Linked DNA regions of Homo sapiens. The protein of the gene in region 2 interacts with the protein of the main gene of each other region in a biochemical or structural test. Each region holds a gene or a part of one and is shown on either strand. Other genes may lie near its edges. The genes, in order: ROBO1 and SRGAP2.

The links.
Region 1: the proteins of SRGAP2 (region 2) and ROBO1 interact in a biophysical measurement, tested with the Homo sapiens proteins (one study listed by IntAct).

The regions. Positions count from the first base shown.
Region 1 is NC_000003.12:78,663,138-78,678,513, forward strand, and holds part of ROBO1 (roundabout homolog 1 isoform a precursor), read right to left. Parts: intron 7,165-15,376; coding exon 6,959-7,164; intron 5,429-6,958; coding exon 5,347-5,428; intron 5,166-5,346; coding exon 4,997-5,165; intron 4,913-4,996; coding exon 4,746-4,912; intron 1-4,745. UniProt on the Homo sapiens protein: Receptor for SLIT1 and SLIT2 that mediates cellular responses to molecular guidance cues in cellular migration, including axonal navigation at the ventral midline of the neural tube and projection of axons to different regions during neuronal development.
Region 2 is NC_000001.11:206,446,361-206,461,736, reverse strand, and holds part of SRGAP2 (SLIT-ROBO Rho GTPase-activating protein 2), read right to left. Parts: intron 11,352-15,376; coding exon 11,272-11,351; intron 8,538-11,271; coding exon 8,357-8,537; intron 7,594-8,356; coding exon of another isoform or gene 7,581-7,593; exon of another isoform or gene 6,860-7,580; coding exon 6,713-6,859; exon of another isoform or gene 5,965-6,712; coding exon of another isoform or gene 5,946-5,964; exon of another isoform or gene 5,578-5,945; intron 3,367-5,577; coding exon of another isoform or gene 3,328-3,366; intron 3,115-3,327; coding exon 2,790-3,114; intron 2,153-2,789; coding exon of another isoform or gene 2,063-2,152; exon of another isoform or gene 2,058-2,062; intron 701-2,057; coding exon 317-700; 3' UTR 1-316. UniProt on the Homo sapiens protein: Postsynaptic RAC1 GTPase activating protein (GAP) that plays a key role in neuronal morphogenesis and migration mainly during development of the cerebral cortex. Regulates excitatory and inhibitory synapse maturation and density in cortical pyramidal neurons.

The DNA.
Region 1 (15,376 bases), on a different chromosome or scaffold from region 2:
GTCAAACAATTGATCTTGGGTAGAAAGCAAAAGCAGGAATACTAAGAATGAGATCGCTAAGTATCTCGGATGAAGTCCAGGGAAGCTAGGCAAGTGGAAGAGATGACATCGAGATTGATATCAAACACTCTTACATATTGTTTGGTTGTTTTTATACTTAACCTAGAAATTAAGCTGATAAATAAGCAAGATGAAAAAAAAACAACTGGGATAATTCTGGCATCCCATACTTCATCTTCCTTTACCAATATTTTTGGTTAGGACCTGCCCTCAGGATAACTATTATCACAGCCTCTACGGAGTAAACACTTGATTGTCACCTTTCCATCTCTTCCTTACCCACTGGTCTCAATTGCTCCTACGACTCAAGCTGTCACCCATCTCTAGGATAAGAGTGAAATACTTGGAATGAAACAGACTTGGGTTTGCACCCCACCTCGGCAACTTAAAAACCACGTAACATTGGAACAATTTCTTAATCTCACTATTCTTCAGTTTCCTTATGCTTCAGATGGTGGCATCAAAGGCAGCTAATCCTGAGGGCTGTGGTAAAAGCTGTCTTGTGGTAAGACATAAAAAGTGCTTTTCCTCAGAGCAGGGATTGTGGACCCATAGTATATAGCATAGTGCCATATACATAGGTGTTGCTTAATAAACATAGGTTCAATTAAAATGTATTCATGTGTGGAAAACACACATATGATGTCAGTTTCCAAGTACTTCCCTCATACGTAAGCTCCCATCCTCACAAAATCATCCCCCTTTCAGAAAGTATCTTCAAATACAGAAATAACCACTTTATACATAACTGCCATGATCTGCATCCCAATCCCAAATTCCTCTGATTTGAGATAAACCTACCAGTCAGTTCCTTCATGAAAATTGCTAGATTCTCCCACCTAGTACCCATGACAGCAACAGCAGTCTATAACATTATAATAGAAATGTTCACAGCAGAGAGAAAAAGGGAAAGTGACACCTGATAATATAATTTTGAGAAGTTTATGAATTGATCCTGTTACTGTTTTTGTTCTCCTTCTCCTGAAAGAAACGTATGACAATGTAAAAGGTCTTTCTCAACATTCAGAATTAGACTTAAAGAAGACCTAATTGCTCCAGCCAAACTGTTTCCCCCAACGTTAAAACTTCGTATACACAACCTCAGAGGGGAGCCTATCCAGGCCCCACTCATTGATAATAACTGACATCATCTTAGGTATGATATGTATCTGTATAGATTCTTTTAAAACTAGGGCTCAAGAATGATACACAGACAGGGCACATGGGTGAGGAATCATAGTAACTAACAATGGTAACAACAGCCGCACCTCTGCCACAATGACCACCACCCCTAACTGCCAGGTGCTCATCTCATCTTCCTTGCATAATCAAATCTTGTCTTTGGGAAAGCACACTTTGATTACCACATAACAAGGCTCTAACTCCAACCATGACATAGGTCTACCTGACTCCTGTACTCGGAACCTGTGCCCTATATCTGTGCACCTTTAGCTTTTGACCCCAGCTCATTTCTAAGTATCTACACTTGGGGAAGATTCTTTTGCAACCACATTGCAGAAATGGTTAGAGAAATTATGCCTGCTCCCTTATGAATCACTTTCCAACAAGTCCTTCTTGAATTTCCTCACCCCTCATTTTTCTCCTTGCTGTGTTTGCCTTCTGGTCCCTCCAGTGAAATATTTTTGCAGGTGATTCCCCAGGTTCTTATTACAGTTATAATCCAAGGCTTCCAGCCTCAAATGAAGTCCAAGAATAGGCAAGATATGTGCCTCAATTTTACTTCTTCTCATGGGCCCTTTTCTGTTGCCTCGAGCTAGAATAAGCATAACTCTTCCATACGGCAGTCTCTTAAAATGTTAAGGAAAAGATGTCATGTCTGCTCTGATGTTATTATTTTCTGGCCTAATCATACCTAGATCCTTGAATGTCTTTTCATATGATGTGATTTTCAGCCTTTCATGCGGCCTCATCGACTATCCCTACTGTCCTCCTCTTAAAAGTCCATCTGAAAATGTAGTCTCCAGAACAAACACATTACTCCATTCATGAACTGAATAGTTCTAAGTAAAAAGAGAAAAATTACTTGATCCAGGCATAATTCTAGTGCCAGCTAAGACTACATTTGTTCTCTTGGCAACTGTATCCGTCAGTCGGTTCAGATGGGTGTTTTATTTTAAAGTCAGATCACTCCGAAAGCCCTGACACACTCACATATACTTCCCGTAAGCCTGCTGTCTTTAGTCTATCCTTTTACAGCTAATTTTTTAAACCCAAGTTCAAGTACCAGACTTTTTAATTTGCTCTATTAACTTTAATAGTTAGCACTCTCCCATCAGTCCAATCTGTTGAGTTATATTTAATTCTGATTCTCTTATTTGGCATACTAGCTGTCTTTCTCAGTTTTACGACATCCACAAATTTTATGAACTTCCTTTACTTTTAGTCCTGACACTAAAAGAAATACAAGTCCAATAACAGATTTTATGGGATAAAACAGAAAACAAATCTGAATCTTATATACTTATATATTGATTGGTTAATGTATTCTTTGTCCAATCCCGAGGAATGGGTATGTTTAGCCCCATTTTATAGGTGAGGAAACTCAGAAGGGCTGACTAGCTTGCTCAAGGTCACACAGCTAGTGGATTGAGGAGCTGAAATTTAAAAAAAAAAAGTCTTTGATTTCACAACTGTATGCCTGTTTCTCTATATTTCCAGTATTCCAGTTAACAAGGATTCATTATACTTAGAGTGATGTGGTTTGGCTGTGTCCTCACCCAAATCTCATCTTGAACTGTAGTTCTCCTAATCCCCATGTGTCACGGGAGGGTCTCGGTAGGAGGTAACTGAATCATGGAGTAGTTACCCCGTGCTGCTGTTCTCGTGATAGTGAGTGAGTTCTCAGGAGACCCGATGGTTTTATAAGGGGCTTTGCTCACTTTTGCTCGGCACCTCTTGCTGCCACCATGTGAACCGGGACGTGTTTCTTTCCCCTTCTGCCATGATTGTAAGTTTTCTGAGGCTTCCCCAGCCATGCTGAACTGTGAGTCAATTAAACCTCTTTCCTTTATAAACTGCCCAGTCTCGGGGAAGTTCTTTATTAGCAGCGTGAGAAGAGACTAATACATTGTTCCACTAGCTATGCATATGCAAAGGCAAATTGACAGAAATGTTAAAAAGACTAAATGAATGTTCAGACAGAATGCTAACTTACTGCTCACTTACAAATGAGGTTACATATTCCAGAATCATGCATGTGAGTACAGGACAAAACGGTGTTAAGCTCTAGTCATCAAAACCTTTCAGTTAGAGTCTACTGGCTGGAGACCACTGTACTGGGGACAAAAGTTTAAATTCATTTTATAGCTATCATTGGGTCTACATTCTTTACAAATGTGTATCTAATATCAAAAACCTCAGACTGCCTTAAGGCAGGCTGCAAGTATAGTAAAGCTCCTGGAGAGGTGATTCATAATAGCAAATATGAGCTATGGGTGTGTTACATTCACACAAGAGACAAACGTGGGCATGTTCTACAACTTGGTGTGCTTTTTCTGCAAATTCTGAAACAAAAAGTGCTTCCAAAAAGACTGTTTCTGTACATACTTGAAGTAACAAAACAGCAACATGGCTGGCAGACCCCTCTCCCAAACCAGCAGCAAAGGACTTTAAGTCTCAGTCATCTTGTGTATAACTTGTTTCTATTAAAATAACCAAGTCTATTTTTTTTTCTTTTTTCCTTTGTTCCCTTAAGATAGAAACACTATCCCTCTGTATGTTGAGAAAATAATTTTATAGTTCGAATCACTCCCCTCTAGAATTACCTTTCTTTACTAATATAAAAACAAGCACATTTTATTTACAATGACGTGATTTTTTTCCAAAAATAAAAGGTATCCAGATATCTCTCATATTTATGTGATCTCAAGAGAGTATTATTTGATTAGGGTTGTAATCTAAAAATTCATCCAGAAGGTTGTGAGTACTGAACTTATAAATAAATAAAATTTGGTTAATTTTAAATACAATTATAATATGATTAAGATTGTACACCTACATGTTACCATATTTAAAATTCAGGAAATTGAATAGAATACACAAATATTCACATATTTTTAAAATTTATGGGTACTAACAGGTGTATATATTTATGGGTACATGAGGTATTTTGATATAGGCATACAGGGCATAATAATCACATCAGGGTAAATGGGGTATCTATCACCTCAATCATTTATCCTTTGTTTGTGTTACAAACATTCCAGTTATACTTTATTTAAAAATGTACAATAAATTATTATTGACTGCAGTCACCTTGTTGCTATCTAATACTAGATCTTATTCATTAGATCTAACTATTCTTTTTTTTGTACCCGTTAACCATCCCCACCCTCCCCACAGCCACCCTACTACCCTTCCCAGCCTCTGGTAACCATCATTCTACTTTCCATCTCCTCACGTAATATTTTTGTCTTGATATATTTGTAATTTTATGAGAAACAGTTCTCTTTGTTAATCCATCTTATGTTGGTATGCTTAGTCCAGAAAATAATAAAGTTTGTAGACATTGTGTTTGTATATTAAAAATTAATTAAGCAACTTGGGCAACTTGAACAACACACTGTAAATGTACAATTCTAGCATGTAGCACAAGTGATTTGTCAGTGCAATTATAACATCTAAGGATAAGTAGGTGTCACAGGTTTAAGTAAATCAATATTTACCTTGTGTTTTCACTGGATCTGATATTTGGCTTGGATCACTAATTCCATATGCATTAGCTGCCCTCACAAGGAAAAGGTAAATTGCATTAGGTTTGAGTCCTTTAATGGCAGATGTTTCTGTTTTCACATTCTCTGCTACGGTCTGCCAGCTGCTACCAGATGCATGGCTAAGGATAGACACACAGGTTAGAACATGCGTATTTAATGGAGAATCAAAAAAGAACAACTAGGAAGCATCTCCTTCACTCTACCTGAAGGCTTCTATAATATAAGATGTTGGAGTTGCTCCTGAATTCAAATTTGGTTGCCACGATAATGTGACTGTATTTCTGCTGACATCTGTCACTTCAGGTTTTGATGGGGCACTAGGGATTAAATTTGGGTCAGTAGGTCTTGGAGGCTGAACTGGAACTCCAAATTCTAAAAAGCAGGAAAAAGGCCAAAATAAAAGATGTTTACACATACACAGATAAGCGGATAAATGCAGATAACATATTCATACACCTACTCAGGGAAGAGGACATTTACTTCATCAATATCCCAGTAAGTAAACAACTGCATTTTAAGCTTCACTTTAAGGGAAACACACCATTTACTTTACCTTGAACTTCAATGTAAGCACTCCATGTTGCTTCACCACTGGGGGTTGATGCAATGCAGGTGTACCGACCAGTATCACCCAGCTGAGAAGGCAGACAAAAAATAAATATTTGGAAAAATCAAGAACTCACTGGGCTGGAAAAGCAATTACAGGTTTGTATATGATCCATGAATATGGATAACTGCATTAAAATTCACTAACCAGAAACTTCCCCTTAGTTGAATATATTTTTATTGAATGTGAAGGAAAATATTACATCAATATAGAAAAAAAGATTTTATATGATTGTTCTAATGGTATAATAAGAAATATTTAATTGCATTAGCATATATTATCATCAGTCTCAGGGACAATAATTCCTAAGGTAAGGCATACAATTCTTCAAATTTAGAGCGTTAATATTTATGGCTAAGATATATCTTTATGTTTAATAAGTTATATAATAAGGCTGATAAAGTTTAACCAATGCCTATTCTTGCTATTTCATATTTTACTTATATATTTAACTATATGGATATATGAGATCAACAGAAAAAGGATAGGCATCATAGAATTTTTTTCTTAAACTACTGACTTTTCCGGGTTTTAAAACTTGTAACTTAAGGCAGTTTAAGAAGTACAAAGCCAAACTCAAGCTGGAACGAACACTCTCGCTCCCTTTTAAAAACTGAATGTCAGAAGGCAAACATAGGTTACATGTTCAACTTTGAAATCAGCAGCAGGATAATAAACCCATCTACTTCTGCTCAAGCTAATAACTATCTTCAAGTAACATTTGATAAAGAAAGAATGTTGTCATCTTGCCCTGGCAATTGCAGGAACCAAGTCACAACAGTCACAAAGCAGCACAACATATTAACTGTTGTGGCACTTAAAGTGAACTGTGATGCTGATCCAATACTCCAAAGGAACCACCCACACTAGGAGATAAAGCAACTGAAATTCATGTTTATTGCTGTCAGGACTATTCTTTCATATGCCTCAGGAGCTCGTCTGATCTTGACATAAAAAAAGAAGAAAAATCAAAACAATAAAGTCCTGAAAGAGCAGGCATGGGATATGATGCCCTGTGAAAGTAAATCCTTAAATGGTTCCTACAGACCTGTGGGCTTTCCATCATTGAGCATTCTGATTTGAATTGTACACTCGGTGTGTACATTGCTTTATGGCTTTTGTTTGCATGTATAGTTTTGCCATTGCAAAATGCTGAAACAAACACTTACAATAGAAGAACTATCTAAATATATTGCACATAAAATGATACAGGTAAATATCTTAAAAGATGCTTTATGGAAGGACTGCTTCGTACCACTACTTTGAAGATATTTATTCTCTCACAAACCCTCATTTACTTTCCTCGGTAGGTTCTTAGAAATCCTTTCTTCTCCTCCATACAACCTTAAATTACCTGCCATGGACTAAATTATGAGTTAAATCATCTCAAACATATACAATGAAATATCTGAAAAAAATAAAACATCAAATTAAAAATATATTACTACTCTTCATTTAACACTTCATTAATTGCAAAGTTAGAAATTTCAATGCCAGTTGTTGGAGGCAGAAACAAAGTGAAACAAAACAAGAAACGCAAGGTGCCATTCCAAGTTACCTTAGCATATCGGATCTGCAGTACTCCATTCTCCAACTGTTTGATTCGAGAGTCTTGGGTTGAAACGAGGACTCCATCCTTTCTCCACAGAATGGTGGGCACTGGACTGCCTGTGGCCACACAGCTGAGGACGAAAGTGCCATCCACGGCTACAGTCTGATTCACAGGACCTTGTCGAATAACTGGGGGAGGCCGATCTGCAATCACTGCCAGAAGAAACAACAGGAAATAGATTTCTGCAACTGGAAGCAATTTTCTAATCATCCAAGCAACAGCAGTTGTTCTAGGCTTTGAAACAAACTAAAGATAATTAAACAAGTAATTAAAGTAGCAGACATGCATTATTCAAAATGCATTTATATGATGCACTGATTCAGAATACTAAAATGAGACACAATGTGCTACTTTCAAATGACCAGCCACTCACTGAGCTGGCTGCATCGTCAAGAGGCCTATTTAAAGAGTTCGGGAATTAGGATTGTGGATGGTGAAGTAGATACAGAGACGTGATCATGGAATACTGTACTTTTTAAACTCAAAAACATGAAAAAACACAACATAACAAAAAGACCATTCCTCTCAAGGAAACATATGAGATAAATTTTAATAAATGAAGCAAAGCCAAATTGACATTTCATAACTTGTACAACAGAAAAAAAGAAACAAGGTACCATACCAGCATGTTTAACAATTTTGGATCCAAAAAAGTGCATTGGATTTCGTAATTTAATAAATCAGTGTGATTGAGTTCCCTGTGTCTTTTTATCTTGTAATTCTTTCTATTACAATATACATGGGAGAAAATTACCCAACTGTAATGAATTCAAAGAAATTGGAAAATTGCCCAAATACATTGTTGTTTGGCTGATCCAAAGAGACAAGTCAAAATGATGTTCTAACTTGGCAAACACCATACTTCTCTATTGGGATTAATGGGATTGGGAATGTGCCTCTGCTAACTCCGTTACCTTAGATAATAGTTATAACATACTACGGAAAATAACAACGAGAGGCAATTTTATTATGTGTAAATACAATTAACCCTATGATTACATGAAAAAAATCTAAAATCTAAAAACTTTATCTGACATGAAGTCTTTTTTAGGGGAAAACATAGAACAACTGTGTTGGAACTAGAATAAATCCTACATTGAAGAGGTGTTCCCATCCCCTGACTTAGGCAATTTATATGAAACTCTATAGTTTTTTTTTAATGACTTAAAAACCAAATTTCAGAAATTTTCTTTAAATATTCAACTTGAAAATTCTGGATGTTAATGAAAAATTTTTAAAAGACACAAATGTACAAAGAAAGATTCTAAGTTGCCTGGTTAAAGAAAAGTGGTTGTCAGAGTAACTAAATTTTGGAAGCAATAATTTTCAAAGCTGGATCTGTCATGTTCCAAGCTTTATGCACCAAAGATTTTCACAAGCTGGAGTCACACTTCAATTTGCTCCTCATTTGTCATGCAATAAATATTAGTTTTGTGCATGCAAACTAAAAAAAAAAAAAGAAAAGATAAACAGGAAAGCAATGGAGTGAAATCAGCAGCTGTGCATTTCCACTCTACTCTTCCAATTCTCTTCTTTGTCTTGGTTACCAGGGTGAAATTTGCAATATCAAGGGGTGAATTAGAAGGCTAGAGTTTGAAACTTGGCAGAAGGAATATTCTTTATAACTGATTATAATTAAGTCCAGTAGAAGAATGGTTTAAATTTGGTAGTCTTATCATATTTAGAAACAATCCAATATCTGGGAATATATTCAATGTTCTCTATCTTTATGGTTCTTTGATATTTGTATTTTATTTAGTGTCATCCACACCTCCCCATTCCATCCCAAACCAGTTATTGATGCCATTTTTGTGGTATAATTTACAATGTATACTTAACAAAAATAAAGCAATAAAAGAAAAAGATCAGCTCTAGCATCTGCCATATGTCTTTGGGCAAGTTCCTTAAATTCTCTAAGCCTCAGTTTTGTATTGTTTTTAAATCCATCAACTAAGCATAATAATATTTTTTTCTAAATAGCTCAGGCAGGGTATTGTTATGCATATTTAAATGGAACAGATAAGGGAGTGCTTGGCTAATTGCAAAAGGCTAGACATATTATGTACTGTAGTATCACTAGTGTCCTCTTTGGTAAAAACAACAACAACAACAAAAAAAACTATTATGTAAATCAGAGATGAAAGATTTGGCCGGGCACTGGGGCTCACGCCTGTAATCCTGCACTTTGGGTGGCCAAGTAAGGTGGATTGCTTAAGCCTAAGAGTTCAAAACCCACCTGGGTAACATGGCAAAACCCCATCTCCACAAAAATAAAAATAAAAATAAAAATAAATTAGCCGGCCATGGTGGTGTGCACCTGTAGTCCCAGCAACTTGACAGACTGAGGTGGGAGGATCACATGAGCCCAGGAGGTTAGGTCTGCAGTGGTGGACTTTGATCAGGCCACCGCACTCCAGCCTGGGTGACAGAGTGAGACCCTGTCTCAAAAAAAAAAAAAAAAAAAAGAGAAATATTTAAGGGTTTATTAAAGCAATTTGATGTTTCCAGGTAGAGAAATGAAAGTTTTTGATGTCATGAAGTAGAATAAAATACTCGTAAAATGTTTACACTTACAGACACCAAAGAATGTACTGCATTTATGAGTCAAATCTTAATTTAGAAGGAGACAAACCTTATATTCAGGTCTAGGATCTTCTGTTGGAATTATTAGAATGAATTATCCAGAAATAAAATAGGAAGTGTAAGAATCAGAAATGTTTAACAAAGTGATTAAATGCACGGACTTTGGAGTCAGAAAATGTTAGCACCATACAACAGAAATGTTCCATATCTACAACAGAAATGTTCCATATCTACTCTCTCCAATACAGTAGCCAACAGCACCAAGTGACTACTGAACATGTAAGTGTAGCTAGAGTAATTGGGGAATTGGATATGCAATTGTATTTAATTTTAAGTAATTTAAATTCAAATTTAAATAGCCCCATATGGTAAGTAGCTACCTTATTGGAGGGTGCAAACATGTCAGTTCTGCTACTTATCATTGTAAGTTGGGTACACATCTTCACATTCACTGCCTCAGTTTCTTCACTGGTAAAATGAGATATGGTTAGATTTGAAATTGTTCATGTGTGAAAAGTTTCTAGTATAGTGCCTGGCCCTAGGTAAGCTTATCCTATAACTTGTTATTAGTCACTGTAGCTCATTATTGTCAGTATAAAAATAATAGTGGTGGAGGTAGTGATGGTATAAGCAGTGTAACAGGTATAACAGGTGCTGTAATATATATTACAGCAGGGTTACACCACCTGTTATAAATATATATATATATATTACAGCAAGGTTACACTACCTGTTATAAAAATATATATATAATATAAATATATAAAATATATAAAATAATATATAATATATATAAATATATATATATTACAGCTAGGTTACATATATTTTATATATATATATATATATATATATATATATATATATATATATACACACATATATTACAGCAGGGTTATAAAAGTTTAGCTATCTTTTCCCCACATTTAGTGAAAGACTTCAAAACCCGTCCAAAATAAGGGTATATAATCAGAATGTTGTAATTTGTCACCTCAAAAATAGCGATCATGAAGTCTATGTTAATATACATAAATATATTTAGGAAATAATTTTAAGAGAAAAAGAACAGAATATACACACATTGATTAGTTCACGTACAAAAAGTCACATTATACACCAATAAACATCGCAGATAAAGAGCATAATTGTCATCCATTTACAAACTGCAAATATTGTATCTTGGAAATTATAAATTTGGCTATAAAATATTATTATTCCATTTTAGAAATCAGGGAACTGAAACTCTAGAAGTTCAAGTGACTTGTCCAAATCAAGTAGTAACTGGCAAATCTTTTTTCTGTATAAAATATAACACTCTTTGCACTATGTATCTATAAATTTTGTGAGATGAATACGAATGATTTTAAATTTTATACATTATGTAGTAATCATTAACTTTGTTTTCTTACCTTCTGATATTATAGTAAAGAGAAGAAAGATGTTCAGTTAAATAGAAGACATGAATTTGTATGTTTCTAAGTCAAATGCTATTAGGGATAGGTCACAGCTACAGTCAACACAACATTTTAAAGGCAGCTGCTACTTCTGTGCTTCATGTTTGATTCTGCCTTTGTCTTTGTTCTGTTTGCAAACAGTAAAGAAGGTCAAGAAGCTAAAGACGAATAGTATCCCCAAAGTACTCTGCCTACTAGCCATCCTCTGGACTTGCTAATGTATAAATACCGGTATTTCCAGCACTTGCAATAATTCTAGTTTTACCCATGAAGAATGAGACCACAGTGTTAAATTGTTTTCACAATATCAATAAGCTCCAAAATAAAGCAAACAAAACTTAAAAAACAGTGCCAAAACAGCAAACACGAAATCACCTTAAAACGCCCAGAGTTTGCAGGGTGAAACAGGACATTTAGTGTTGAACTGGCTAGTAGGGAAGAATCCCAAATTCACAGATATTTAGAGATTTTGTTTTTGTTTTTTATAGTTTAATAAAAGGTCTATGCGTGATCTAGTCTCACAAATACAAGCAATTTGTGATAACGTCATGTCAGTTGGCACATGAAAACCTTTGCTTTAAATTATAATTATAAAAATTGGAGATATTTGAGACTACTTTAGCATAGGTTTCTAAAATCTTTTTTTATGTATACCTATATATAAGTTGCTTTACAAAGTTGCAATTATTAATGTGTGTATCACTCTATGTTCTAATGTCTCTATATATTGGTTATAGTAGTCATTATTGAATTCACTATATGGCTTTCACAATCATTATTTAATGGCTGTAATGTACTTAAGACATTATAAAAATATTTTAGGTCATACTAGCTTATTGGAGCCAGTACATGTATAATACGTATCATATACAGAGGTAAGAGTTTGAGCTTTTGAGAGAGACAATCCTAGTGCTCAATACTCACTTAACCAAAAGCTAGTTCTTTTTCCTTTTTTCTTTGTTTCATCCACTCATTAAAAAAAAAAAAAATCAGCTGGCAGCCAAGATGGCCGAATAGGAACAGCTCCAGTCTACAGCTCCCAGCGTGAGCGACGCAGAAGATGGGTGATTTCTGCATTTCTATCTGAGGTACCGGGTTCATCTCACTAGGGAGTGCCAGATAGAGGGCGCCGGTCAGTGGGTGGAGCACACAGTTCGCGAGCCGAAGCAGGGCGAGGCATTGCCTCACTCGGGAAGCGCAAGGGGTCAGGGAGTTCCCTTTCCTAGTCAAAGAAAGGGGTGACAGACGGCACCTGGAAAATCGGGTCACTCCCACCCTAATACTGTGCTTTTCCAATGGGCTTAAAAAACGGCGCACCAGGAGATTATATCCCGCACTTGGCTCGGAGGGTCCTACACCCACGGAGTCTCGCTAATTGTTAGCACAGCAGTCTGAGATCAAACTGCAAGGCGGCAGCGAGGCTGGGGGAGGGGGGCCTGCCATTGCCGAGTTAGTTGTTTGATTAGGTAAACAAAGCCACCTGGAAGCTCGAACTGGGTGGAGCCCACCACAGCTCAAGGAGGCCTGCCTGCCTCTGTAGGCTCCACCTCTGGGGGCAGGGCATAGACAAACAAAAAGACAGCAGTAACCTCTGCAGACTTAAATGTACCTGTCTGACAGCTTTGAAGAGAGCAGTGGTTCTCCCAGCACGCAGCTGGAGATCTGAGAAAGGGCAGACTGCCTCCTCAAGTGGGTCCCTGACCCCTGACCCCCGAGCAGCCTAACTGGGAGGCACCCCCAAGTAGGGGCAGACTGACACCTCACAGGGCCGGGTACTCCTCTGAGACAAAACTTCCAGAGGAACAATCAGACAGCAGCATTCGAGGTTCATGAAAATCCACTGTTCTGCAGCCACCGCTGCTGGTACCCAGGCAAACAGGGTCTGGAGTGGACCTCTAGCAAACTCCAACAGACCTGCAGCTGAGGGTCCTGTCTGTTAGAAGGAAAACTAACAAACAGAAAGGACATCCACACCAAAAACCCATCTATACATCACCATCATCAAAGACCAAAAGTAGATAAAACCAGAAAGATGGGGAAAAAACAGAGCAGAAAAACTGGAAACTCTAAAAAGCAGAGCACCTCTCCTCCTCCAAAGGAACGCAGTTCCTCACCAGCAACGGAACAAAGCTGGATGGAGAATGACTTTGACGAGTTGAGAGAAGAAGGCTTCAGACGATCAAACTACTCCGAGCTACACAAGGAAATTCAAACCCAAGGCAAAGAAGTTAAAAACTTTAAAAAAATTTAGACGAATGTATAACTAGAATAACCAATACAGAGAAGTGCCTAAAGGAGCTGATGGAGCTGAAAGCCAAAGCTCGAGAACTACGTGAAGAATGCAGAAGCCTCAGGAGCCGATGCGATCAACTGGAAGAAAGGGTATCAGTGATGGAAGATGAAATGAATGAAATGAAGTGAGAAGGGAAGTTTAGAGAAAAAAGAATAAAAAGAAATGAACAAAGCCTCCAAGAAATATGGGACTATGTGAAAAGACCAAATCTACGTCTGATTGGTGTACCTGAAAGTGACGGGGAGAATGGAACCAAGTTGAAAAACACTCTGCAGGATATTATCCAGGAGAACTTCCCCAATCTGGCATGGCAGGCCAACATTCAGATTCAGGAAATACAGAGAACGCCACAAATATACTCCTCGAGAAGAGCAACTCCAAGACACATAATTGTCAGATTCACCAAAGTTGAAATGAAGGAAAAAATGTTAAGGGCAGCCAGAGAGAAAGGTCAGGTTACCCACAAAGGGAAGACCATCAGACTAACAGCGGATCTCTCGGCAGAAACCCTACAAGCCAGAAGAGAGTGGGGGCCAATATTCAACATTCTTAAAGAAAAGAATTTTCAACCCACAATTTCATATCCAGCCAAACTAAGCTTCATAAGTGAAGGAGTAATAAAATACTTTAGACAAGCAAATGCTGAGAGATTTTGTCACCACCAGGCCTGCCCTAAAAGAGCTCCTGAAGGAAGTACTAAACGTGGAAAGGAACAACCAGTACCAGCCACTGCAAAAACATGCCAAATTGTAAAGACCATCAAGGCTAGGAAGAAACTGCATCAACCAATGAGCAAAATAACCATCTAACATCATAATGACAAGATCAAATTCACACATAACAATATTAACTTTAAATGTAAATGGACTAAATGCTCCAATTAAAAGACACAGACTGGCAAATTGGATAAAGAGTCAACACCCATCAGTGTGCTGTATTCAGGAAACCCATCTCACATGCAGAGACACACACAGGCTCAAAATAAAAGGATGGAGGAAGATCTACCAAGCTAATGGAAAACAAAAAAAGGCAGGGGTTGCAATCCTAGTCTCTGATAAAACAGACTTTAAACCAACAAAGATCAAAAGAGACAAAGAAGGCCATTACATAATGGTAAAGGGATCAATTCAACAAGAGGAGCTAACTATCCTAAATATATATGCACCCAATACAGGAGCACCCAGATTCATAAAGCAAGTCCTGAGTGACCTACAAAGAGACTTAGACTCCCACACAATAATAATGGGCGACTTTAACACCCCACTGTCAACATTAGACAGATCGACAAGACAGAAAGTTAACAAGCATACCCAGGAATTGAACTCAGCTCTGCACCAAGCGGACCTAATAGACATCTACAGAACTCTCCACCCCAAATCAACAGAATATACATTTTTTTCAGCACCACACCACACCTATTCCAAAATTGACCACGTAGTTGGAAGTAAAGCTCTCCTCAGCAAATGTAAAAGAACAGAAATTATAACAAACTGTCTCTCAGACCACAGTGCAATCAAACTAGAACTCAGGATTAAGAAACTCACTCAAAACCGCTCAACTACATGGAAACTGAACAACCTGCTCCTGAATGACTACTGGGTGCATAACGAAATGAAGGCAGACATAAAGATGTTCTTTGAAACCAATGAGAACAAAGACACAACATACCAGAATCTCTGGGACACATTCAAAGCAGTGTGTAGAGGGAAATTTATAGCACTAAATGCCCACAAGAGAAAGCAGGAAAGATCCAAAATTGACACCCTAACATCACAATTAAAAGAACTAGAAAAGCAAGAGCAAACACATTCAAAAGCTAGCAGAAGGCAAGAAATAACTAAAATCAGAGCAGAACTGAAGGAAATAGAGACACAAAAAACCCTTCAAAAAATTAATGAAACCAAGAGCTGGTTTTTTGAAAGGATCAACAAAATTGATAGACAGCTAGCAAGACTAATAAAGAGGAAAAGAGAGAAGAATCAAATGGATGCAATAAAAAATGATAAAGGGGATATCACCACCAATCCCACAGAA
Region 2 (15,376 bases):
AGCCCATGTCCTCAGGACTGCCTTACCAGATTTCACAGTGACCTGATAATGAAAACCTGTCTCTGGCTAACCTAAGAACGGTACGGACTGCAGCTGGCTGAATTACGACGACTGGGGGAAGCAGAGGGCAGTGGGAAGGGAGAGGCGATACCAAGGGCTTCATTCTCAAGGTTTTGGGAGACGGGGAGGCTAATTCCTGCAAGAACAACTTAGAACCTAATTTTCAACTGAAGTCCCCAAGCTAGTTAAATAGGAAGATTTTAATAACAGTCAGTCCCTATAGTCCCCTTGTCTAGAACAATTAAATTATTATCCCTCAGACAGTACAAGACTTGTCAGTAGACTGTGGGGAAGTTGATGAGTTGACACCAGGGCTAGTGGCATTTGTTTTGGGGAAGACAGTGGGCTTGGGCCGTGTGGCTGGTGGTTTGACCGGGGCAGCCATCTTGACAGACTTGACAGGCCGGAAGGCGCAGGCGATGTCCCCAGCAGTACTGGCGCTGCGCTGGAAGGCGGGCTCGGGGTCCTTGAGGAGCTGGGTGTGCAGAGGGCTGGAGGGCTCTGACGTGGGGGCCACCACTGGGGAGGTTTTGAGGGGCTCCAAGGTGTCCAGAACCACGTCAGGGGTGTGTTTGACACTGCTCTGCCGTTCTAGTTCCCGTAGCTCATTCAGGGCCGAGTTCATTGTTGCCTCAATATCCTGCAAAACAGGAAAAAGGAGGAGGTGAGGCAAATGAGGGGAGAATTCCCCAAGGAGCCGGTTTCAACAACACAGGCCAAGGCATGAAGAAAATGACCGTAAGATGTCCAGATTATTGTACTTGGCCTAAATCTTTGAACATATGAATGCTCAGGAAGTAGGGAAAGGGGGACGGAGGGATTTTCACTGTCATGAGATTTTTTTTTTTCCTTTAGAAAAAGTAATTGATATTTTTTTAGAGACCCTAGGTTTTAGAGATAGATATTGAAATACTTATCGACGAAGTGACATATAATCTAGTGGGGAAGAGAAACACGGACAAAGTAAGAATGGCCAGGAGTTTGGTGATGAGTACATGGGGATTTGTTATCCAGTTCTGTCTGCTTTTGGGTAGGTTTGAAATTGTACATAATAAACACTTTTTTAAAAAGTGGTAGAGATGATGTATGATCTTTATTCTCTTGGACTTCAAGGCCAAAGGTGAAGAGGGTTAGTCCTTCCTCCTCAGGGGCTGAGGAAAGTTTCAGGAGCCCAATACGCCTCCCCCCGCCCCTCCTCCCCAACTCAGGGCAGTGTCCAATTTGAAACCATTTCCTTCCAGCCATCACCACCAAGGGGACAAAAGAATGACCAGGAAGGGGAGCCAAAGCCCACATAGGTGAATCAATTGCCTGCAAATCAATGGAACACTCTAGATCTTTAGCCAACAGCAGTCCTAGCCCAGGGACTCAAGGCAGAACCAAAGAACCTTTGTATGCAAGCCAGCTGCCTTCCAGTGAGACTTCCCAGCTCCCCGCTCCCTCCCCATAAACCTGTGTCTGGCACCCCCAAACTACCACAGGATTTCTTCTTGGGATTAGGTTCACATGGAAAGATTTTACACATTCCAAGCGAAGGCCTTTGGTTAAGGTTTCTTTGTCGTACAGACCGATGCATGCTTTCTGTTCACAGTGATTCAGTTTCACTCATCCCTATGACATTCTCAAACCTTTAAAATGCTCAGGAAGAACTCCATCTCCCTCCTCAGTCGCACTCTACAGCTAGTCTGTCCCAGCTGTCTACCTTTCCTGACATTCCTATTAACACCTGGCCAAGGAGGGAGCTGGGAGGATTCCCGTAGCGCAAGGCAGATTGCAGCCAAGAGCTTAAATAGAGGCACAGAATAGAAGGCTAGCAAAGCAAGACATCTCAGGCCTGTAGCTCAATACTGGGCTTGCCAGGTACATCTCCGTAAGCAGAGAACCACAATTAAGCCAAGAGAGACCATGCCCAGCCTCTATCACCCCCTGGAAGATGGGGTAAGGAGAATCTCAACTCAGTTGAGATAAGAAGGCAACAATAAGCCCTTAGTTCCTACCTGGTCTAATGAAAATTATATAGTTGGGAGAGACGTCTGAGTGAACTGCTTGGAGTGGCCCCGGTAGTCGGATTTTTAGAGGTGGGGTTGGATCTCTAATATTTCATGGAAAACAGAGAGTCATCAGTGCGGTGCATACACAGAAGGAAGACCCTGCAACCAGGGAGCTCATCTCCATAGCCTCTGGAGGCTTGGGCTGCAAATCCTTTTGGTTACCAGAGCTCTCTGCAGCCAGAGTATTTTTTAGGTCTTTAAAACCAGGTGCAGGTTCTTAATTGATCATCTACCCATTCGGTACCAGAGACTAGCCTTAGGAATCGGGATGATGGTGATGGGCACAGCAATATAAACATGTGGCCAGGATTACACCTGATCCTCAACAGTCGGGCAGTTTCACTAAAGTCTACCAAGGTCTTTAGACTCAAAACTTGGGCTTTCAAAATACTCTTAATACCGGCTTTAAAAATTACAACAGCCTTCCTAATAGCCAGTGTATGAGCAAGAAGCTAGGCTTCTTTTATTCTGTCTTTAGGTTCTTCCTGGGGAGAGAGGGACAGGCAGACCACTTATTAAGCTGTCTTATTGGGTCCACATGTCCAGAGTGGACATATACTCAGTATATCACATACAAAATAATCATTCTGTTTCAAGTCCTGTCATAATTAGGTGGGTGGCACTAAGTGGTAGTGATGAATGTAGACTCATGCTGTCTGTCCAGGAGCCCACAGTTACCTGAGCAATGACCTCAGGGTCCATGGGCCGATGGTTATTGAAGCTTTTTGACCTTCCCGCTGTGGCAGTCTTCCGGATCTGTGGACTATCCAGCCGATTCTTCAGGGATGAGTGGCGGCTGATGGAGTTGAGGCTCCCGTGCCCACTGATGGAACACTTATCTGGCCCTTCTTTGGGGAGGCTCTGGCTCATGATGGGCTGGGAGGATGGGCGGCAGCTAGCCCCCACCCCTGGGGAGGAGGAGTCAGTCAGGGAACTGCTCAGCCCATGGCTGTCACTCCGAAAAGTTTTCCGGATGCTCCCAGATTCTGGACGCTTCCTTTGCCTTCAATCACAAACAGAAAGGGCAGTGTGATCAGGGAGCCCTGGCTCCAAGGAAGCTAGGATAAGTGGGAGGGGGCAGATGTTGGCACCCAGGGACTTCGGAAGGAGAGGGACACAGAACTCGTTCTCTCCTCGGCTTCATCTTCTCTTGCATTCTCCATGTCTTCATTCCCTTGCCACCCCCAAGCTGGGTGAAGGAGAAATGGATACTTACTTGGTGGTCACGGGCTTTGTGTTGTCAAGATGTAAGTTGCTGTCAGAAAAAATGTCTGATTAAGCGAAGGTTTCTAATGGGAAAGAGATTCATGGAAAGGCCCCTTCTGTGACCTGCCATGAACAGAAACCTAAGGCCCCAGCTAGGAGAAGAAGTCTCACCATCACCAAAGAGGTCAAGATTGCTGGTAAGAGGATAGTTAACTTTTCTAAATTTTAGCATGACTCTTTTTCCAAAAAGACTGTAACTGTTTTGGGCTCTGGCAAGAGGCTGTTGTTGCTTATTCTGTAGGCATGGAGCAGAATAGTTTTCAAGAGGCAGCAACACTGCAGAGTTGGGGCCCAGTTTGTGCGTTTTCTTAGTGTGGAAATACCTCTACATGACTCCCAAGTCACCCAGCACTGGGCTGAACCCTGGATCTGGGCGAATTTGTTTCAGACCACTTAGGGCTCTCAGACAAAATGGCTTGGCAGAATCCCAGTTACATGGGTGTTGCCTGCTGCTGGATAATTTCATTTTGTCTTGGAATCAGATCTGAAAAGGTCTAATCTAAGAGGCAATGAAACTTCTGATTTGGATGGCTGCTGAACAGCTCTGATCTTGAATCTAAGAGAGATGGGGGCTGAGGCAGGAGTTGAGGTGGAAGGAGGGAAGGGGTTAGACTCTGAAGATAAGGAGCTGGTCTGTGAGGTGGGGACAGTGCTCTAAGCCAGTCCTAGTCCTGTTCACTGCTGAGGTCTTCCTCATCTTTCTGCCTGCAGGGCCTGGCCCAGGACCTGGCATGTATCAGTCACTCCGTGAGTCTGTCCACTCGGCAGTTTTAGGCTTGTGACTCAGCCGCTCTCGAGTGGAAAAAGGATGTTCTCAGAGTCTTCTAAGGCCCTGCTGAAATGAACCCCCTCTCTGCAAGGATTTCCCTGGCACCACTAACTCCAACTGCACTGGCACCACTGCACCACTAACTCCAGTTGCAGGAAGAATGGACCCCTCCCTCCTCTGTACCTTCAGAGCATCTGATGCTACCTGTCAGTTACCTGTCCATAGGGTCTTTACCTTGCCAGACTGTGAGCTCTGAGATCAGGGACCTCGTCTTTTTTATCTCTGAATAAACACCAGCAGTGCTTGGCACAACAGTAGATACTTAATAAATGTGTAGAATTAAATGGAAGTGCCACACCCTAATAGCTCTTTGCTGATTTCCTTTTTCTGCTTGAGGATAGCTGACTCATGGGCTGAAACTGCTGAGAAGACAGATTTATGGGGTGGCTGTGGTGTGCCATGTCCCAGGCTAGGCCCTGGGGATGTAAAGAAAAGGAAGATATAGTTCCTGGGTTCAAGGAGCTCAATCTGGTGGGGGATCTGAGTGAAGCGTGAGTACCAAAAGGTATTCAAAGTGTCTTTGGAATGCAGCATAAGGGCACCTCACTCAGCCTGGGGAAGTCAGGGATGTCAGAATGGCTTCCCCAAAGAGCTAAGTCTTCGGACTGAGTCTTGAAGGGAGATGAGGAGGTGACCAGGTGAGGAGACAGCAGGCGTGAGCGCCCAGGGGCGAAAGAGAACCTGGGCACTCGGGAAACTCAAGGAATTTGGGAGGAGGAGTGGCGTGGGGGGCAGGAGGTAAGACTCAAAGGCCGACTCACTTCTAAGGGCCAGACATGCCCCGGGGCCACCGCTCACCCACCCACCAGGTGATGAGGCTTGTCCTCCAAGAACCCCATCCCAAGACTCCTGACACCAGCAAACAAGGAGTTCAAGGGAACCACCTTAACTGTCTACAGATACTCTTTTTTTTTCTTCTTCTGTTTACCATTTCAGTTATTACTCTCTACAATTTCTATGCACAAATGGCATCAAATATATGATGGCTTAAAAATATGTACTTAACTAATTATCTAACTCTTCCTCCACCAACCCCGCCTTGGTTTCTGAGTTAATTATAGGATCACGACCTTTTGATTGTAGGGTTACAATTTAACACAGAATTGTAAATAAGGAAAAAAATGTGATTAGCCCACAGTTACTTGATATTGGCTTGCCCTCCCAGCAGGGCAGTGTGCTGGAGGGAAACAGAAACTTCTCAATTTTTTTTTAACTGGTCTGAATTAAATTATAACTACACTGAGTAAGTGATCTGAATAAACGACTTTACTAACTTGAGGGTGAAAGAGATGGAAAAGAGCCACGTGCCCCAACCACTCCCCCTGCTACCGTCTGGGTGGAAAAAAGCCAAGAGATCTGGGAAACCTGGTATAGTTTAAAAACAACAAGCATCCTTTATTCTCCTTCCAGTCTCAGTGTCCAGAGGCTACGGTTAACAGGTTTTCAAAGTGCAAATCATTTCATTCCTCAAAAGCCAGAGGGGAATAAAAACTGTACATCATCTCCAATCCATATTCATCAGGAGCGCCCTGGGGCTTGTCATCCTGCTGGCACGGGGCCAGGTTTCAGGGCCTGGCGGAAAGAGGTCTGTAGGCTTTGGGACTTGGTGTCTGGCCCCTTGAGATGAGATTAGTTCTCCAATAACCTGAATGCCTCTTGGGGAGGCGGCAGCACGCAGGCGTAGAATCCCTCTAGACAGCCAGATCGGGCGTGGGTGGAGTTTAAACCCCAGGATGTTGCTAACAGCCACAATGAAAGCTGGGGGTCAGAGGTAAGAGCCTGCTGAGCAGGAGTGGGGATCTGCAAAGGGACTAAGGGGGTAGAATAATACAAAAGGCCAAAGCAATAGGAACAAAATGGAAAATTATTTCTCCTGGTGTGAAAGGGCAGAAGAAAAGGGAGCTAGGGGTTAGCCAATGAATGAAGAGCTCAGGACAAAGCTTTCCTTAGGGACATCGTGGCCTCCTTTCCTCCACAGGAGTGAATGCAGGACAGGGGGAGGAACAGACACATGATATCTCAATAAACCCACCTGGTGTAACATCAGCCTAGTAGAAGCCACACACAGACTCTGAATCTTTGCACGAACACGGGTCAAGGAAGACAGACATCAAAGACTATTATTTGAGTATGGATTGGAAAAAAGAAGGCACCTCTGAGAAACAGTACAAAACCAGGTTGCATAAAGTGACCAAAGCTTTGGTCAAAGTTTTAGCTGTAAGACTGCCACAAAGGTCTGGGTGGACAGACACTGCGGGAACACACAGTAAAGCACCCTTCCACAGCACGAGGGCAGCTAGCTGGAGACCTGGACCTGCCCCGAGGCTTGTAGCAGCATCCTCAGCCCTGTCCGCCTTGCAGCAGCAATGACCACATGCAAACTGTTAGGCTGGGGGAGCTGGGAGCCCTACGTGCAGCACAGGAATGGAGATGGGGGTTAGGCCAGAGGGTGAGGCTGGGTGTTGCAAGTCATTCAGGGGAGCAGAAAATGAAAAGCAGAGCTTACTTGTTGATGTTTGCAAGATAAATATCGGCTACATGACCCCCACTGGGACAGCTGGCCCCCGCTCTGGCTGTCACCTTTTCTTCAGGTGGCTCAGAAATGACCTCAATCTCAGACTTGGGGCTGGACCTCTCCACGACACCGTCCTCGCTGGGGGAGAAGGGGCAGGCAGGCAGGGAGGAGGGAAAACAACAACAACACAAAAAGCAGCGTTAAATCGGCAAGATGGCCCCCCGACATACACGCGACCCCACACAGCTCTGAGGCAGCAGCGACACCTGGCTGGACTAGTTCTGTGAGCAGAGGCAAGGAAACCTAAGGGCCTTTGAAGGGTCGTTTAAATAAAAATAAATAATCCGCTGAGTTCTGCGGGCTCCTCAGCTCCTCAGGAAAGCGTGGCTAGGGGACACCTGGATTCGAGGCATCTGCCTTCTACCCCATGCTGCTTCCTGGGGAGGCCGTGCTGGGGCGGCCTCCTGGAGAAGGAGGCGGCAAGTCCAGGTTGTGGTTTATCGGCTGAGGTCCTGAGCACTGCCGGGTAAGGACAGTCAACTGTGTGGTGGCTCTGGAGACGGCGGCGTCGTGGCAGGACACCGCCACACACTGTCGTAGCGCCTCTAGCCCCGCTCAGAGCATCCAAGCCGGTCCCAGGTCTCTCCACTGCTCTCCTGGCCCCTCTGGCTACTGATGACAAAGAAAGCCCCTTCTCCCCCACAATTCATCTTCTCTTGATCCTGTGGTGAAGTCATAATGCTAAATTTGGGAGGGTCCTGTCCACGCACAGATTGCCACCAGGTTTGCGATGCTATCAACAGAGGGAGGATTTCCCTGCAGAACGAGCCGGGAAGAGGCTGGGAGGGTGCAGACTCACTCAGGATATCAACCTTTAAAAAATAATATTAAGGGAAGGACTAAAAACACTGACAGCATCGTATCCAAGGGAGGGGAGCTGGGGACAGAGACAGGGCAAACGGACAGGGGGCAGGCTTGGGTGGGCCCACGGGACAACTGCTTCAAAGTGTGAGAATCAACCAACAGCCTATCAGATGAGATCTCTCTGGGACCAGTTCAGGTTTCCTTTGTTCCTTGACATCCTTTTCCCTCCTTCCCCCATCTTACCCTATATCAACCTCATCTCGGTTAAATGAACTAGGTCACTTCCATAAGGCTGCTTAAGCCGGATTTCTCCTAGAAAACCAGTCATTTTAATTTGCAAGTGGAAGAGTGGCTCAACAGGTTGGGGTGAGCATAGTTGTTTAAAAAAAAAAGAGAGTAACAAAAATGTTTTCCCAGCCTGATCTTTCGAGAAAAGAAATATAGGTGGTCAAATAAAAACCCCTTGTTATCACTCATCAGGTATAAATATGGATGAGTGCTGGCTGGCTGGCAGGTTTCTAAAATGACTGGATTAGGGGGTGATTTGCAGGGGGCACAGATAGTGGAGAGATTTAAAAAAATTCTCCACTGAGTGCAGGGAGTGGGGCGGGGGGTGGGGGGGGTGCTCTTCAAGGAACTGTGTGAGCCTCAGGACTGCACTGGACCCCCCAGGGGTTGGCCTCCCTCATAGTCCTATGGCTCCAGAAATGAAGTCTCACTCCCATAGAGCAGCTGGGGACCACCCCCAAAGATGCCATGGGCCCAACGTACGTGTCTTGGACCACGATGTACTGATGGGGGATGAGTCCGTCGATGCCATTGTGCCGGCCTTCCCACCAGTCGTCGGAAGCCCGCTGGTAAAGCAGCAGGGATGCTCCCTTCTTAAAGGATAGCTCTCGGGCTGTCCGGCCCACGTAGTCAAACTTGGCAATGGCCTCGATGGGCTCACATTCTGAGAAGGGTGGAAAAGAAGTAAACACATGTTCTTGGGACCTGCAGACTCAGGAAACTGGGTGGAAAAGCTGAATTAGCTGAACTTACAGTGGTAGGAAATTACTTAGTGGGAAAACGAAGCCATGGATGATCTATAAAGCAAGTAATTCTCACGCAGACTATACCATTATCCTGAAAGCACTGGTATCACCTTTTACCTGCCTTTGCTCACACTGTTCCCTCCACCAGGAATCTTCTTCTCTCTTATCTGCCTGATGAAGCACATCAAAACACAACTCAAGCATCCCATTTTTTTTTTTTTTTTTTTTTTTTGGGATGGAGTCTTACTCTGTCGCTCAGGCTGGAGTGCAGTGGCTCGATCTTGGCTCACTGCAACCTCTGCCTCCCGGGTTTACGCGATTCTCCTGCCTCAGCCTCCCAAGTAGCTGGGACTACAGACGTGTGCCACCACGCCCAGCTAATTTTTTGTATTATTAATAGACGGGGTTTCACCATGTTAGCCAGGATGGTCTTGATCTCCTGACCTCGTGATCTGCCTGCCTCGGCCTCCCAAAGTGCTGGGATTACAGGCGTGAGCCACGCGCCCGACCGCATCCCCTGCTTTCTACAGTAACTTCTTTGGTGTTTCCAAAGATCTTCATGCCTTGACGTCTATCATCAAACTTGCCATACTATATTTTTAAGCATTATTTCTTTTCTAATTATATAATAATTCCAGTAATTGTAGAAAATGTATCATACATTTTTTAGAATACATACATGTATTCTAAATATTTTATGTTATCCATTCCCCCTAGTAAGTAGAATGTGAGCTTTCTGTCTCTCTATAAAGAGAAAATAACTTGCTCAATCAACTTTCCAAGGAGCAAAATATGAAAATATATTTTGTGACCAACCTATGAAAAAAATGCACATGAAAGTAATCTAAAAAAGTAAAAGGGGTCTACGAATGCAATCTATCTTTATTTTTGTGTGGGCTTCTGTCTCCTCATCTGTAACATGGAGATTAATAATCGTGTCTTTTTCATGAAGTTGTTATGAAGAGTCAATGAATTACAATTTGTAAAAGTGCTTAGAACAGTGTCCCGCCCATAGTAAGTGGTATGTGTGCATGACTTATTGTTATCATTATCTTCGTCTGTGCTAGGCTGCAGGTAGAGATCAAAGAGCAAAGAGAAGGCTCCCAGAAAGCTGGAACCTGAGATGAAAGTCGGCTATTCTGGGAAGCAGAGAGAAAGGCTGCTTAAAAATAAGACCATGCCTAGATGGCCCTAGCTGGTGGGTCTGCTCCTGCACAGGAGGGGTTGGAGATTTCACTATAGGAGGCTGGTCAGAGAAGGCCTGTCTAAATATACCCACCTCAGTTAGTTCTCTACAGCCTCGGGTACGTTACTCGACCTCCCTGACCTGCATTTTCTCAACTGTAAAATAGCGGCCATATCTTTTTCACTACAGATTAAGAGATAACATATATAAAGCCTCTAGCAGAGCTGGCCACGAGGTAGGCTCTAACCCACTACTCATTTTCCTAGTTCACCTACTCCCCTCCTCGAATGTAGCAAATGATCATATGGATCCTTATGACATCAGGATCTAAATAAGCAGTCCTATTTTTTTTTTTTCTCCTTTGAAAGCTGGCCTAGAATTGCAGAATTCCCAGCAAGGCAGGGAACAGGGAAAACTCCACAGACTGTTGCCATTTCATTCTTGTGCCCAGAAAATTCTGAGGCCCCTTGTCAGCTGCTGAGACTTCCAGAGCCCATGTGATCCAGAGGAGGTGTGGAGCTGTTGGAAGCGGGGGAAATGTGCTGGCTGGACAGACCCTCATAAAGCATGGGCACTGCTGAGGGGCCTGAGGATGACAGCTGAGCATTCCTCCCCTTGATGCACGCCCACCACGCTGCTCGGCACTCGCATGTCTGTACTTTGGAAAGGGTCAGTTTTTCCAGTCGGTAGGCGTGAAAGCATGTGGTTTCTGCATCCTCATTCCCACTCCCTCTGGCTTGCTTCTATTGGGTTCCGGGCAACCAGCTCTGCTATTTCCCACCCCAGGCTTACTTTTTTTTTTTTTTTTTTTTTTTTAGACAGGGTCTCACTCTCTCACCCAGGCTGGAGTACTGTAGTACAATCATAGCTTGTTGCAGCCTTGAACTCCTGGGCTTAAGGGATCTTCCTACCGCAGCCTCCCAAGTAGCTGGCACTACAGGGATGCTGCACACCACCATGCCAGGCTATTTTTTTTTTTTTTTTAAGAGACAGGGTCTGGCTGTGTTGCCTAGGCTGGTCTTGAATTCTTGAACTCAAGTGATCCTCCCGCCTGGGCCTCCCAGTGCTGGGATTACAGGTGTGAGCCACCACACCCAATTGCTTACTGTTTTTCAAATGTACTTTCCTTCACTTTGTTCTCCAGCTGTCTGGCAGGAGTCTAGGCTATGATAAGGGACCAACATCATGCTGCACTCAGGCCAGACAAGGAGCTGGGAGGTGGAGCAAGAAGGTTGAAGGGCTATGAAAGGCCTAGTTCTTCACCTCTGGTTTAATACGAGCGATTCTATTTGAGAAGGTGGGCTACCTCTCCAAGGAAGGAAGGGAATGAAATTGAGACAGGGAGCTCTCTGCCTGCCCTCAGGGGACCGCTGGGCAGACAGGTTCATCAGATGCACAGGATATATAATCACTTCCTTCTGCCTCACCCCTGGCGTCCCCACTGACCAGGAAGCAGGGCCTCGTACCGTCATCGCTCGTGTGGTGCTCTGCGGTCACATCCTGGGTTGAGTCTTCAACCGAGGTAGTCTCTCCATGAGGGCTATCACTGCAACAGAAGCAAGAGTGACAGGGACATTAACATGTGCTCATAAAATTCTTGTCTTCCCCTTCATACAGCCTCCCTGGCGCGAGGGCACTGAATCCATCTTATGCTCTCTATATCCTAACTGCACACAATAGACAAATGCTTATAATGAAATACAAAGCTCTAGAGTTTTTCCAGTCTAGCTCCTGCTACAAAAACCACTTGAGACTACTTGGAACTTAGAATATCTCAAGACAAAGGGAAGCCCTTTTGAAGGTATAAACTAAATTCTTTAGAAAATAGAGAACAACTCAACTCCTCAAGGTCTGATTCTCTATGTGAATTCATTCCTGGTTTTCAAAGGGGAAGCAGGGTGGAAGGGAAACACTGGGTTTCGGCATCAGATAAAACTGGATTCGAAAACCAGCTCTGATACTTGGTAGCTGTGTGATCCTGGGCAAGTTATTTAATCTCCTTAAGCCTCAGCTGCCTCATCTATATACTGAAGATAAAGATCTATATCCTCAGCTGTGTGAGGATTTAATAAAGTAATTTAGTCACAAGTTTGGCACAGAGTGGGTGTTTAATAAATAGTACTTGCTTTCCTTCTTTCTCATTTTGCTTGATGCCTCTAGGTTGCTTTGCAGTTCAGACTGTGAACTGGTGAAAAAGTGGAAGGTGAGTCATAGGAGAGGGTGGGAAACAAAAGTAGGGGAGGAATAATCTGCTATGGGCTACAGGGCAGGATCCAATTACGGGTTGGAGGGCAGGGGAGAGAAGCTGGGTCAAGTTCTTGAAATAATTCATGAAATTTAAAATCATTCAGGGTAGGTCAGGCACAATGGCTCACACCTGTAATCCCAGCACTTTGGGAGGATCATTTGAGTCTAGGAGTTTGGGACCAGCCTGGGCAACTTAATGAGACCCTGTCTCTACAAAAAAAGAAAAAAAAAAAAAAAGCCAGTGTGCATGCTGTGGTTCTAGCTACTCTGGAGGCTGAGGTGGGAGGATTGGTTAAGCCTGGGAAGTCGAGGCTGCAGTGAGCCATGATCGTGCCACTGCACTCTGGCCTGGGTGACAGAGCAAGATCCTGTCTAAAAAAAAAAAAAAAAAAAAAAAATCATCCAGTGTAAGGAATCGAGAAATGATAGAGAGGTTACTAGGAAAGTCATTTCTATTCCTGATCTCCTGGCTCATGGACTTCAGAACTCATGAGGATGGGCACCAGGAAGTTCTTACTTCCTGAAAAGTAGAGAAACTGTTCATTTCTAAAGTTCTTCCTCTGGTAGTAGGCAGTAACAGGTGAGGCTTTCCAGGCAGTTGTGTGAAAGCACCATCACCCACTCAGCCTGGCAGCCTGGCCGCACAGTTTCCACCTTGGAACCCTCAAGCCTCTTTCCCCATGGGATGGATCCTACACTCCTGGGAAGTTCCTCAAAGACTGGGTGACCAGTTCAGAACTCATCCTGTGTAGAGCAAGTCACTTCCAAGGAGGTTTCCCAGGCTCCAGAGAACATTCTAGAAGAATATAAACGGAGATTCCTCTTTGTCAAAAAATGTAGGCACAATTTCTCACTGTTTTCTAGGGCTAAAAACCATCTGATGAATCTGATGAATTTTGTAATGTTCTGGAAACCTTTGAGATGGTGGGGGTGGCGGGGGAGAGGTTCAAAGGCAAACTTTCCCTCAGGGCTTCAAGTTTATTTACACAGCCAGCCAGTAAGGCAACAGTTCTAAACTTCAGCGAGCCATGGAAGGCTTGTTAAAAAACAGCGCCCCATCTTCAGAGTTCCTGTGTCACTGGGTCTGGGTGGAGCCAAATAACGTGCATTTCTAACCAGTCCTTTGTGACACAGATGCTGTTGGTCCAGGGACCTCACTTTGAAAACCACTGCTTTATGAGAAAGGCAAGAGGATGCTTTCTGAGGTCTCTTCTAGCCCTAAAATCCTATGCTTCTCTTGAAACACACTCCATCCCCAGCCTTTGCTCTTGTGCACCCACCAGACCCAAAAATACCTGAGGTCTCAGGAGCAGTCCACCATGCCACCCAGCCGGTAGTCCTAGAAAACCGGTTCCAGTTTCAGGACTGGAAAGTGTGGTGAAATGGATTTGTCTCTCCTCTCCACAGCTGTGGGGAGGCCATGTGGCCTGGTGCTCTCCTTTCCATGGCTGTTTGGGTCTCCTGATCATTCTCCATTCTCTTCTTAGTGCTCTATCTCCCCTTCTACCACCCTCACTCACCTCCTTACTGCCTTAGCTCCCGGGGCTGGCACTTCTCTCACTTCCCAAAGAAGGGAGAGGAGAGGCCATGAGCCTTCCAGGTGGGTGTGAATCCAGCGGTTAGAAGGTCCCTCTCAACCCAAGGTTGCTGACTCTTGTTCCTCAGGTGCTTCTAGCCTCCCACACAGTCTGCGGTAGTAATGTTCCCTGACTAATCTTGTGGTTTTTCCAGAGGCTGCTAATAAATGTTGAGTGCACAAGAAACAGGTGGGTAGGTTGGGAGACTATCTTGGAGGAAACTGGAGGAAGGCACCTGTCCCCGTGAGCCACACCCCTCCAGGACTCTGACCCACTGGGCTGGGACTCAGGGGCCAGGGCTGTAGGGGTCTCTGTGCCCCGGGCACTGGACCAGAGCCTGCAGTGGTTTGATGTTTGAGAAGTGAGGGCGGAGGTTCTGCCTGACTTTAGAAGGAAGGGAATGCTATTCTACAGCTTTTCACCACGCATGCAAGGGGGAAAACCAAAGCTCTAAGTCACATGCACAAGGACAGCTCCCTGGAGCTCATCATCCAGTAGGCTGAGACCTAAAGTGACCAACAACCTCCCCAGTCACCACCAACCATCTGTCGGTGACAAAAAGCTTTCTCTCCCAGCTGGCCAGCATAGGTTCCTCCAGCTTGGACCCAGACACTGAAATCTGCAGTACAGCAGAGAGGGATGAACCCAGGGATGTCACTGGTATTACTAAGTTCACAGAACACAAATGCCACTTTCTTCACTCCTTGGGCAAGAGGCTGTTCTGTGGGGGTCAGGGAGAAGCGTGGACCAATTGGCCTCTAATTAAGTAAACAACCTCCCCTGTCCTCCCCTACCTCAGTCGATAGCAATGGGGCTGGCCGAATTGGTTCCAGATGTTGAATTCAGACAGAATCCGATTTGGGCTGGCTTGTGCTTTCAGCTCAGGCTGAAATACTATTTAGGGGAAGAAGGGAGGGGGAGGAGGAGGGGGAGGTAAGGGACGTTAGGGATTAAAAGAGAGAGGCAGTTGTCTTTGTGTTTAGTGAAAAAACGACGCTGTAAATGGTACCATGGCGGGTGGCATGGGGTAACGGACTGTACCCTGTACAAAGAGATGAGATTGGGGTTAAATTCCCATCACTAGAGTGGCCTAAAATACTGTCACTGGCCTTTCTGGGTTGCAGCTACTTCATCCATAAAATAGAAATAGTGATTTGTTCTTTGTCAAACAGAGGGGTCTAGCAAACATATATCCCAGGGATTCCTTTTAGATCTCTGTTCCGAAGCTAGGTCATGGAAAACCTGGCCCCACAGAATGGAATGCTGCTTCAGGGGAGGACAGTCCCTAACCTGCCAAAAACAAGGCTTACCCTTCTTTCTCTTCACAAATTTCTAAAATCATTCTGAAGTGCCAGCTTACAAACTCACGGTCAGGAAATTATGCCTTTTATCTAAACTCTTCCCAAAAGGAAGGGAATTCCCTGGGACCCAGGATGGTTTTTCTCAGAATACAGAGCACAGAGTAGAAGCCCAAGAGACACTGTTGATGAATAAAGATCACTTCTAGATGCAACTTTATAAAAAGTCCTTTCTTAGAGATTAGTATCACAATTAATGTTGTCAATATCTTTCAGAATAGTCCCTTGCCACTCAGAACTCATCAAAAAGGGAGGTGGCAAGAAGTGGCATTTAGTCTGTGGGTGGGGCCGAGGTGGGGGCTGCCTATAGCATCCCCAGACCCTAGCAGCCTGGGAGTGAGGAGTTGGGAGGATCTGGGTGTTTCCCTTTGGTTTTCGTGTGGCCATCT